Linked DNA regions of Homo sapiens: all the other regions are linked to region 1. The links come from fine-mapping of genetic effects on gene expression. A gene starts in region 1. Each other region holds a variant in brackets. All regions are shown on one strand. Distances are between the middles of the regions.

The links. PIP is the estimated chance that this variant, and not a neighbour inherited with it, causes the effect. A credible set is the group of variants that fine-mapping cannot tell apart.
Region 2: its variant is the best candidate, but not a certain one, in a credible set for the expression of SEL1L in whole blood (INTERVAL, PIP 0.57).
Region 3: its variant is the best candidate, but not a certain one, in a credible set for the expression of SEL1L in whole blood (TOPMed, PIP 0.70).

What each region holds. Positions count from the first base shown.
Region 1 is chr14:81,531,476-81,535,810 of GRCh38, forward strand. It overlaps SEL1L (SEL1L adaptor subunit of SYVN1 ubiquitin ligase), which reads right to left and starts at 2,378. Exons shown (of 21, transcript NM_005065.6): 1 at 2,200-2,378. The coding sequence starts at 2,269. RefSeq lists an enhancer at 2,166-2,665 and a silencer at 2,382-2,501.
Region 2 is chr14:81,485,149-81,489,148 of GRCh38, forward strand. It overlaps SEL1L (SEL1L adaptor subunit of SYVN1 ubiquitin ligase), which reads right to left. Exons shown (of 21, transcript NM_005065.6): 15 at 2,707-2,794; 16 at 2,242-2,390; 17 at 1,141-1,306; 18 at 524-598. Among named protein-coding and RNA genes, the nearest start is that of LINC02308, 37 kb to the left of the region's middle. The variant A/G (reference allele first, on the strand shown) is at 1,750.
Region 3 is chr14:81,472,924-81,477,235 of GRCh38, forward strand. It overlaps SEL1L (SEL1L adaptor subunit of SYVN1 ubiquitin ligase), which reads right to left. Exons shown (of 21, transcript NM_005065.6): 21 at 1-4,258. The coding sequence ends at 4,049. Among named protein-coding and RNA genes, the nearest start is that of LINC02308, 25 kb to the left of the region's middle. The variant G/C (reference allele first, on the strand shown) is at 2,060.

The DNA of each region.
Region 1 (4,335 bases):
GGCCGAAACCCTGTGAATGAAAATCACAATTGAAAATCCATAGCTTAATTTACACAACTTTATTTAACACAGGGTTGTTTTTTTTTCTTTTTTTTTGAGACAGGGTCTCGCTCTATTGTCCAGGCTGGAGTGCAGTGGCATAATCACAGCTCAGTGCAGCCTCAACCTCCTGGGGCTCACTCCATCCTGCCACCTCAGCCTCCCGAGTAGCTGGAACTACACGTGTGCACCATCACACCTGGAGTTACGTAGAGATGGGGTTTCGCCATGTTGCCCAGGTTGGTCTTGAACTCCTGGGCTCAAGTGATCCTTCCACTTCAGCCTCCCAAAGTGCTGGGATTACAGGTATGAGCTGGGCCCGCACAGGTGTTTTATGATATATGAACTTCATGTGAGCACAGCACTGCCTTTATTACCTTTTAGCATGCACATCTACATTGTTTTAGTTCTGGCTAAGGCTTCTGCCTTTACCATTGAAATGTTGTGGCACAGCTTTAACTATGATGGAAATCAGAGCAGACATTTCTTGAATACAGTCCTCTACCTACATCAATACAACCCAAGGATTTAATATATCAGTGTTAAGTCTTTTATTACAACATCCTGAAAGCCCCAACTGTTGATCTTCAAATATCTTTTCCACTGGCATGGAGCTCTAAGTATATAAAATGCAGTCAAAGACAGACAGCACAATTCCTATGCTTTAATTTTCTTTAAACTCTGCCAATTAAATTCAGAGGGATACACACCGTGCTCTTTCATTACTGTAGTTCTCTTTAGTGTGAAGAATCCCTCATGGAGATTGTTAATCTATGTATACCTGAGCTGTTCCAGACCTAAAACCCAATGTTTAACAAACCCATAAGAGGAATTCTGATGCAGGAGGTCCATGGTCCAGCAGGTACTCTACTCATTAAGCTCAACAGCTTCATTTCATGCTTTTTGATCAAATATTAAATAACTGCTAAAAGTGCTTCGAGAGTTAAGTATAGTCTAAAGATCTGGTCATTAACTCAAACCATCACTACTACTGGAGGGAGGGGAGTGGACCTGAAAGAATGATGTTGGCAGTAAAGTAATTAGCATAGGGTTGGTGCTTTTGAAATGGTATCTCAAACCACATCATGGATAGAATTTAGGTTTAAGCCTCTTATTTTAGAAGCAGAATGACGTTATGGCATTGATTTACAACTAGGACAGGTAATTTGGGGATTCAGATAACCATCTGGGAAATTTTCTGTTAAAAAAAAGCTGACATTTATTAAAAAAAGAAAAAGCTGACATTTATACTCCGTGTTGTCCCCCCAAAACGTCAAGCCACAGAACACCTGTCCTGTTAACTGAAACTGATTAAAATTCCAAAGTTTTACTGTACTAATTTTTATTTATCAACACTTAGAAACACGAAGTTTTCATGAACACTCTCAAAATGGAAATTTTCAAATGTAGGCAGATTAAAACATTAAAAAAGGGGGAAAAAAGCAGAACCAGAATAAACATTAGCTAACTGGAAAATCAATTCAAAAGCACACAAATTTCTGTATCTATATAAAACGCATCTTATAAGAACCAAGATTTTCCCAAACATCATAAAATGACTGTCAACAAACATGGGGCAACTCAGAAACACTGTGACAGGTCACCGCTTTCTCAGGAAGGTTTCAAAAAAGTAAAAAGTGGCTACGATGAGATCAAAAGTCTTCGTTTTTAAACAGACAGACCAGGGACCATCTCAGGTGTTAAGCAAACTACTGTCAACATCCTGGTCTGGATGGATCCTCCTCTGCCCCAAAGTGACAGCTCCAGGTTTGTCAATTATTTAACTTACAATTCCCAAGCCCAGAGTTCTAGACCAGACCCTTCCTCTACCCCAGGGTCGAGGAAGCTCCACTCGGGCTCCTGTATCAGGATTCATTCCTTTGGAGTCAATTCCGCGTTCGTGAGAAGAGTCGCGCAAAGTTTGTTACGTGGGAGAGAGGTGTGGGCAGGGTGACCGCCCCTTCTTTTTCCACCCCACTCCACCTTCCTAAATAGCCCCTTTGGCGCAGGCCAAGCAAAGCCAAAGAGCGAGTGACAGCCCAGTGCGAGATGTGCCCAGGGAGAACGGGGTCCCGAGCCTGGAGTCCCCACGGCCCCGCCGGCTGTAGAGGCTGGGGGGCGGAGGCTCTGGGCCTTCAGCCCGAGGGGGCGGATACTGACCCGAGGACGCCGAGGCCAAGCTCAGCAGCACCGCACACAGCAGCAGCGTCAGCCCTATCCGGACCCGCATCCTCCTCTCGGGGCCGGTGCCAACCCCTAGAGCTGTCGCCTTCGCCTCTGCCACCACGGACTCAGCCACCACCGCCGCCTCGCCGCTGCTCTTCCTGCTCTAGTCTCCTTCCTCCGCCCCTTCCCAGGCTTCCCTGACCCAGCGCGCAGCCAATCCCCGCCCGCCGTCGCGGGCTTCTGGTCCAATCACCATGGTCTCCCCGCCCACCCCCATTGCTCCGCCCCGGGGGTCATTCATTGGCCAATCATTGTACGAAGCTCCCACACCAGCTTTCTCGGTTGGACCACGACTCACGGACATGGCCCCAGCTAATTGGTAGCCCCTGGGTTCAACCGGAATCAGCGCGTGAGTCCAAGACTGGGAGAAAGAGGCTCATCCGAGACTACAATTCCCAGAATGCGCTTCATGTGATTAACTCGGGGGGTGCTCTTGGGAAACGTAGTCCATCGTAGGGCAAGATTTACAAGTGCGGGTGACTGTTGAAGTTAGAATTTAACTAACACCTGGGCTAAATATTAACTCAAGGCTATGGATTCACAAGCCTTTTTAAATTGACCCAAAATAAATATTAAGGAATAATTTTAAGAACTTGTAATGTGTTTAGCATCTTTTCCTGTTTTATTTAAAAAATTTAAATTGGGCATAGTGATAAGAGCACTGAGAAAAATGCCACAGCTAGTTGAATTTGAGGTGTTTTTTAAAACTTAGATAAAACAGTACCGTGAAGTACGGAAACCAGGGTGCAACTCAGTACCTGTCCTCCTTTCTCCGACAAAACAAAAGGAAATAAATCCGCTCGGCACAGATTATCTCAATACAGTATTTATTTTCACTAGGTTCACCAGACAATAATCATAAAGAAAATGTGCCAACAGCTTTGAAAAATTATTTTAAACACTTGTCCTCATCCTTCTCCTCTTGTGAGTTGCATTGTTCTCTTCTTTCCTAACTAAAGTCAGGAGACCAGGTTCACGTGTGTGGAGGTAGAGGTGATAGTGATTGCATCGCAGGCACGGAAATACTCTATGTAATAAGCACGAAATCCAGGCATGTTCCAACTGAGTAGCAGAGCAGTGACTTGGTGTGCCTGCCCTTTCTTTTCTCAAACCGTGTCATTCTGCTTTCCCTGTCATCCACCCACAGTCAGCTCTAAGGCCTAGAACCTAGTCCAGCCAAGTGAAGGACTTTGGAAAAGTCTCTGCTGGCCATGTGTCTTAACACTTCTGGGCATTTGTCTTCCTTCCTTTTTTTTTTTGTTTTTTGTTTTTTGTTTTTTGAGATACAGCCTTTTATTTTCAGGAAGATGGTAAAAAACCAACCACTGTTTCTCATTCACATCGGAGGAGATGAAGGAAAGAATTATCTCCTCCAAAAACTTGTCTTTTCAGCTACATCACCATTTCTGTCACTAACAATGTTCCCTCTGAGTTCCTCTGATTATAAATCATAGAGTAAAATCTGGTATATTTTCCTTTCTTTTTCATCTTATTGATAATCAAGTTCTATCAGTTTAAACTATGTAACTTTTAAATTGTTTTATTTTATTATGTACCTCTGTTCTCTTCCTCACTGAAAACTCCCCTAATGGCTTTCATTTTCTCTCACCTGGATGATGCACCTGAGTTCCAGCCATACTCACTGACATCATTCTCCCTTTAACCTGAATCACATATCATGGCCATATTAATTTTCCTTAAACACTGCTTTCATATGCCTATTGAAAATTTTCAATGGCTACACTTTTCACAGAATAAAAAAAATTAGAACTTATTCTACTCACAAAATAGGAACTGTGCTGACAGTTCTACTCTGTTGGGGAAGTACCAGGGAAGAAACTTCTGCCTTCTACAGAAGAGCCAGTGATTATCTGTTTGATTAAAACTGGGGAAAGTTTGCTGCTTAGTTAAGCCCCAACTTCTTTTTTCAGTTTTGTCTTTACTGAGTACGTCTTATATTTAAGGGTTGTTCTGGGTGCTGCTGCATGGACCAAATAGCCACTTCCGTTTTACTTTCCAGATTTCACATTAACACAATCATGTCTTCCTAAGGGTTCCTCTACCCTTTCT
Region 2 (4,000 bases), 46 kb before region 1:
AGCTTGATGGAAATGTGTAGTACAAAGACTTTACAACCCAATTTAGAAACTCTGGCTCTAGAAACTTCTGTTAAGAATAAATACCAATAATATGCAAACAAATTAAGTCACAGTATCTCTGCTTAATTAATTATTTTATTGTTTTGAGAAGGAGTCTCGCTCTGTCGCCCAGGCTGGAGTGCAGTGGCATAATCTTGGCTCACTGTAACCTCTGCCTCCCAGGTTCAAGCGATTCTCCTGCCTCAGCCTCCTGAGTAGCTGGGATTACAGGAGCCTGCCACCATGCCCAGCTAATTTTTTTTGTTTTTTTTTTTTTTAGTAGAGACAGGGTTTTACTATGCTGGCCAGGCTGGTTTCGGTTTCGAACTCCTGACCTCAAGTGATCCTCCTGCCTTGGCTTCCGAAAGTGCTAGGGTTACAGGCGTGAGCCACAGTACTCGGCTTCATGATTTAATGTTCATGGGAGATAAACAACATAGGGAGGTCCCTGGGTGAAACTCTTATCTTAGAATTAATCACTTACCTTGAGAGGCGGCCCTGTTCCAATGTAGCAAAGCTCTGGGATAAGTTTCATTCTCACCTACAATGCTTGCTTCTCCTACAGGAAAAGAAATGAAATACAAATCAGGCATTTAAGAAAAGGCACTAGACTTAATTTTCATTTGCAAAGTAGGAAGGATAGGTGAAGCATAAGTTAAACAAGAATTAGGATATAAAAATTAAAACAAATACTGAAATTAATTACTGAACTAAAATAGTGAGTTCAAAGCAATCACTGGATGCAAGAGGGCACTACTTTGTGAAACATGTTGTATCTATAGAACCAGTCATGAGACTACTGAGTCACTCTTCTACAGTGTTGGGAAAATGGCATTTTTGTATCCACTGTATTTTGAAAAATACATTTATGCAAAGTGCTTAATTTTAAAATGAATGTCAAATCCATTTCTACAGTCAACTCGTTATAAAACTAACTTTGATGGCTAAAGTAAAATATTAATAACTTAAGCCTGTGTGTTCAGTTCCAGTTACAATAATAAAGAATGTTTCCTAGTAGCTTTTCTTTTTGAATACATTAAACAGTTTACTGGTGTGAACTCGTACATTCTAAACCTAAGGCAGGACTAAAATGAACCTTACTCTGATCAAGAATAAAGGCTGCATTGCTTTGTGCCACTTCATAGCCCTGTTCAGCCAGGAGGAGGTACTGGATCACTGCAGCATTGTAATCGCCATCTTTATAGCTGTTATAGGCAGTCATAAGCCTTTCAGACCAACGGCCTCGTTCACATACATTCTTAAACAACTGTGTGAGGTGGGGAAAAAAAATATCAGTAGAAGAAAATAAGAAAGATATACCAGAAAATCACTTATGCACTTTGGTTACACATGACTATTAAGCTTGCTCCTTCAATTTCTGGCAGCTTTCTTGAACAGACATAAAAGTTTGAGATACTTATTTAAAGTTTTCACTTACTCTTTAGAAGTCAACAGGTTTATAAAAAAAAAAAACAGTACACAATTATTGTACTACAAAAATGACCATTTACTCTGCCCGGGCACTGTTGTAATGATTTATGTATATTACCATTCTTAATCTTCCCATGAGATTCATGAGGAACCACCCTAGGAGGTAAGTCCTGTTAAAAGCCCCATTTGACAAGTGAGTAAACTAAAGCACAGAGATTTAGAAACTTTGCTAAGCATTTATCAATGTCACTCTAAAGTGCCAAGTCTAAGAGAGAGCTA[A/G]GAGACAATTTCCAATTAGGAGATATTAGCATTCCTTTTTGGAACATTCATTCAACTTCTTTTTCTTTCTTTCTTTTTTTTTTTTTTTTAAGAGATAGGTTCTTTCTATGTTGTCCAGGTTGGTCTCAAACTCCTGGGCTCAAGCCTTCATCCACCTCAACCTCCTAAGTAGCTGGGACTATAGGCACGTGCCATTGTGCTCAGCTTATATATTTTTTTGATGCTGATTATTATCAGATACTGTCTTAGGTGCTAGAGATACTGCAGACACCAGTATCTCCCCTTATACAGTTGATTGTAATAGGGAGACACTGAATAAATAAGTATGGTAATTACACACAGACCCCTCGGTCTTCCCTCAGTATATCAAAGCTAGGTAGGCTGAGTCTAGAACTACAGAAGAAAACATACAAAAAAACCAGAATTGAAAGCGCAGACTTTCCTGCTGGGCAAATCAACTCCCTACACACAAGCTGGTAGGAAAGACCTTACCTCCACTGCAGTGTGACATGATCGCATCACGCCGGTGCCACTGGCATGCATCTGAGCTAGGTTATAGAAAGCCAAGATATGGCCTCCCTGAGAAGCTAAATTAAAATACTTCAAGGCCTGTTTATAATCTCTCTTGACTCCAATGCCATCTGTAAGAAAAAAAAAAATCACACGAGATAATAGACTTAAGATTTAGCTAAGTATCAGAGAAGGCTTATATATGAAGAATAAAACTCTAATGAAAGAATTCTTACTGAGTAAATATGTGAATCTAATACAAGCTAACACACTGATACAGATTAATATAATTTACAATGAAAAACAAGATGTACAAATCATTGAACTGGGAGAACATTTAACCAGCCAGAATTTGATAGCACCCATTTCCACATCATAATGCCATCTAGTAGAAAACAGCTTAATTTAGATCTTGGTGTATCCATCATTAATTCCAGTGTTACTTACTATAGTACATGGAACCAAGCTGTAGCTGCCCATCCACCCAGCCTTGTTCAGCAGCTTTCTGGAAATACTTAAGGGCTAGATCATAATTCTGTAGAAAAAGATGTCATATGATGAGAAAGCTCAAAAGGCAGACATACTCAAAAGTTAAGAGATTTATTTAAAAAAATGAACAAAGCATATAAAAAAATATTCCCAAAGAGCCATTAAAAAGACCACTTTCTAATTCTTATAATAGATAATAATATACATTAAGTCATAGGGGGATTAATATTTAAGGTGGTGAAGAAAAGTAAATAGAGTTTTTGTGAAACAATTTGTATGCTGCTCTCAGAAAGCATAAAAACTAGTAGAACATCAGACCAGGAATTAAGAAACAGTCAATCTTCTCTGCTAACCAATCAACCCTTTTTAAACCTCAATTTTCCTAAAATTAAAGAAAGAAAATTATCTCCTTATTCATTTATTCCGTGTACCTTACCAAACACTATGACTATTATACTTCAAAGGTCATATGTATCCAAGAAGAAAAGTTAAAATAAAGGTTACTACTGAATTTTAGTGTCCTAGAATGACTAGAAGGCCGCAAAATGAGAACACATTACTGTCTTTTGTGTTAGAGAATACCTATAGATATTAAAAACCTAGCTCTTAAACCTAGCTCTTAGTTTCAGCCTCAAATTAAAAGCACATATTACTTGGAAAGATCAAATAGAGAAGGAAACTGCAACGTGAATCCAGGGACATCCAACATGAGGAGGCTGCACAGAAGGATGAGATGCAATGGCCAAGGAAACCCAGACACAGACAGAACACCAGGGAAGCGAGAGGTCAAGTGAGGTAGAACCAAAAAATGTCAATTGGACCGACATTTAGGAGGTTACTGGTGATCTGTACAGAGAGTATAGTTCCATGAAGCAGAAGTTCGATTGCTAAGAACTCAAGAGTGAATGACAGCAGCTTAGTTTGACTCTGAGTGAAGGGCTGGGAGAAGACAGGTGGTAGCTAGAAGGGGTAAAGGGCAGAACAGAAAGCTTTCCTCCTCCTCAATGGAAGGCAGTTATGCATTTTGTCAGGATTGAGTAAAAAAGCAGGCAAGGAGATGTTTAAGTCCTGAGAGATGGTTAGAGGACGTGGGGTAGAGAGCAGAGATGGAAGAACAAGAAACAACTCCATACCTCTGGGAGAAAGTGCCAGACACAGAGCTGTTCTAAGACAGTTGAGATGGTGTCTGTCGGGTATGGGGTGGTAGTGAGACAAACTCAGACAACAGAAAGAGGTTCAGCTTTGCTTACAA
Region 3 (4,312 bases), 59 kb before region 1:
CAGAGGTGGAATCTTTATTTCACAAGTTTCAAGATACAGTACAAAACGATTCTGTACATCTCTCTATTAACAGGATTTGTTTACACAATTATATTACACTTCACCAACCTTTATACTGCATTTCATTAAATACAAAATACATTTACAAAAAGAGTCTACCATGGTGTTCCTTCACAATGCCAGCTTAAGGTCTTTTAAAACTTCCTCTTCTACATATTTATAGTGGTTACATCTTGATTATATCAACATTATGAGTTTTATGAGTTTATTTTCTAATCAAAGAGAATAGTGTCAGCCTGTTTCTCAAACCAAATAGGAAAAACAGCATGTGAGATGATTCCCTGCACATAACCAAGGAATCCTTTTCATGCACACAACATTGGACTTTTACTTGTGCAGTCACTTTAACATACAAATCATCTTTCCTTGGGATCGTTTTAAATTTTCTTGAAATACCAAGTGGGTGGAGAGCTTCTTTTCAATGAATACCACACATTTAAAATCCAGATCGTGCCTCAGGCATTCAGGAGTGTTATATTTTAATTTATATTTGAGAGTGATGACTGATGAAAAATATTTGCATGAAAATAGAAATTTTCTTTTGTTCTGATCATTTCTTACATACTTCTAGTCATAATAATGTGTAATACATATATATATTATGAGATTCACTTTCAAAACAAATATCAGCTGTCACTGAAATATAGCCCTGCTTGTCTTGGCAGGTAAAGGGGCTGTTTTCATGACACATCTTGTTTTGAAATGTGCATGTGAAATGTTAGTCCGAACCTCTGTAAAGGAAGTTTTTGCGTATGTAGTTAGACATTAATACACATGCTATACACATAAAGAATTGTGTTTTTCATTTATAGGCCTGCATGCATACTTCCAAAACACTGGTTTGAAGAATGAACATGAGGATAAAAGAAGGGAGAGAAAGACAAAGCAAAATAAAAAAAAATTCCTATATATATATTAATAAAATACTTAAGTTTCCTGGAGGCATCAACGGCTCTTTAAATAAATCATCAGATCATCACCAGATCACTGGCAGGGGTTTCCAAAACTTCCCAACAGTACAGAGACAGAATGGCTTAGTGGTAAGACTCTCACATGTAAGGTAAAAATTAACCTAATATGCAAAAAAGTAACAAATCCTTAGTATCAAGATTAATAATTTATAAATTCATCTGAGTTAAGTGCTAAACAATACATTTTGAAAAGAAGTCATCTTTGATTTACTTTTTCTTTGCCATTGACTGCTAATCAAAAATAAGCCTTACCTAGAAAACAGAAACTGAAACTTCAAACACAGAGACAGAAAAAAAAAAAAAAACCCACCAATGCTACCTCTGTAAAATAAAACTAGAAGCAAAATGAATAGTTTCAAGACAGTCGGCTAACCAACAAACCAAATGCACAAGAGAATACTAAACAGGGTTTTACTGTCATCAAGTTCGAAGGCAGGAAGACAGACTAGAAAAGGTCTTAGGAGAGATGGGCTACCATGGACAAATGAAGCCACACTCTATCTGTTAAATCTAAATTCTAACATTAAAACTCCTGAATCCTGGAGTTAGTTTAATGTCACTGACATTAACTAGCTTTAGTTATTGTCATTTTATTCAAATGGATGCCATTTGATTAGGTAAGTATTGAGCATTATTTTAGGAGAAAAACCAAACCCAACTCCTATTTGCTTAGGTACCATGTCCCATGAACAAAAAAGAAGAAGAGAGCAAAGTATTTTTGAGACAGTCTTTAAGTGAAGCCATAAGAACTAAGTTATTTGAAAGACACCATTCACAAACTGCTGGCAGCAAGTGACCCAGGGTAAAATGAAGTAGAAACAAGCCAAGAAAAGGAAATTCAGAACATTAACAATAGAAAAAGGCAAGTGGTAAACTAATAAGAAGTGTGTTTTTATATGAACAACAAGACTGCACTTTCCCATCCAGCCTTAGGTGGCACACACTGTTTTAAGAAATGTTTTCTCAAAGCACGTACTCAATGGAGGGAAGGAAAGTTAGATATAAAAATCTTGCTAAAGGAAAAATGA[G/C]GGTGGATGGCAGAAGAAAAAAGTGAAAGTTGGTAGTCATCTTGGGTGGTTTTTCAACTTTTAAATAAATTATAACAGTTCCTTCTAAAGGAAGTGTGGCTGCTACCGTGGATTACACTTATTTTGAAGCGGGGAGAAGGGACAGTGGTGGAGACACCAAAGTACTGTACCAACTGCACTCAAATCTCTACATGTAAGAGACCAAACAAGTCTCACTATTTACAAGAGTTGCCTAAAGCAACATTACACTTAGGGGGGGTAAGTTTCCTACCTTTCACAGATACGCTTTCATACATATGGCTCTCTTGGTGACTAACTCTTCGAATTTGGAAGCAATTATCTGGGAGGAAAGTTTTGCTTACCAGGTTTCCCATAATTCTCTAAACACAAAAAGGTATACAACTTCATATATAAAAGCCTTCATGTTCATTATAGACTAGTTAAATCTAGTTCTAACTACTACCCCAACTTCAAAAATCAAAGCAGTACAACTCTACAAGCAATAAACTTTTCAAGTTTTCTGGCAGATGAGGGATTCTGGGAAAAAAGCATGAAGGTTAGTATAAACATACTGACATCAGTAGGCATAGAAAACCTGCTCAGATACGAATGCAGTCTCAGACAAGATACAGGCTGGTGAACACCACCATCTGACAATAAAATGAAATACAAATTCAGTTTAAGCTTTAATTATTTCACGTGTGTAATTATGTGAAACTCTTCAGTTTTTTTCCCATACTATTTAACCAGACAATCCTGAAGCATAGTAGCCTTGATTTTCCTAATGTTAACAGTGAGAAAATGGTGACTATGATAGCTAAGCAGTGGCTGGCTTTCTATTATAATATAAAACTATCAGAAATAAAAAGATACCTGAATAGTATAGAACAGTACAAACAGGTTTTGGCTTTCATCAACCACTGAGTTTAATCCATCTTTGATTCTCTGAGTTTTAGTATTATAATAGTAGTCACTGTAAGCCATACCCTGGCAATGATATTTCATATTTAAAGAATTCAGGAAGGTGATGTGTTCTTTGTGCAAAAAGAAATGCAAAGTAAAATAAATCCTGGGAACAAATGCTTCAACTTTAGGAAAAGTATGTCTGTGTCTGTGATCGTAGTACCCCAACCAGAGTTCGTTTTGTTTTCTAATTTCTCCCACTTAGTCCATCCTCTGGCTTCTGGATCAAGGCTCTGTATATTCAAAACAAACAAGCAAATTACAGAGTAGGTGGGGCAAACTCGCGTTAGTGCAAGGAGTCAGTTCACAAGGTTTTGCATAAGTATATTCCATTCCAAAGAAGTAAAGCTCACAAAAAACTCCTTAACAAGGCCTTTCATTCTTTGAAGGAGAGGAGTATGGTATACCGTGTGACAATCACCAATAAGAAACCTCCCAACCCTCCCTTTTAAAATAACAAATATGCTGAATATGTCTAATTGCATGTGGACTGGTAAGAGTTTCTCAGTTATCGCAGTTCCAAAACATTTTCAAGATAGCTTTTTTTTTTTTTAACTTAAAAGGCAAGTTCTATTTTCAGACTTTCGAACACGTTTAAACTTGCAACTGGGTTTTCCTTTTTACACTGATCAGTTTTTAGTGTCGATGCACAATACCTTAAAGATGGTTGACATTAAGAACTTATGCACACTGAAATAATGACCAAAAGGATCCAAGAAAGATAGCTGGATACAGTAGACATTACTCTGAGTGTCTCACATATGTTTCCAGAAAAGAAAAAAAAAAGCCACTGAAAGTTGTTATTCCATATGGCACTGAAACAAACATTCAGCTCAGTTTAGGTAAGAGTTACTTATCCCTGAAAATAAAGGCATCAGATTCTAAGCAGCTTTAGGAATTCAATGCTTCCTTGTGCCGTGCCTCTTCTGGGAGGTGACCACTGATCCAAGGTCCTAAATCAAATGCAAGTGTTCCCAGCAGATAACTTCCTTCGCTGTCACTGATCAAGGCTGGACCCAGTGCCTATTACTGTGGTGGCTGCTGCTCTGGTGGCCCCTCCTGCTGGGGTGGAGCTGGCCGTGGCCCTGGAGGCCTGGGTGCAGGCATGTCTTGGTGCTGCCTTTGCCTGTAAGCTATGACTGTTCCCAACAGCAGCGCAATGATGGTCATGAGGTAAAGGTCCCACTCAGGTCCCAAAAGCTGGTCCATATCAAGTTGGGTGAACATATCTCGAATCTTAATGAAAATAATATAGAAACCATTATTATCACTAAAATGTCAGGCAAGGAA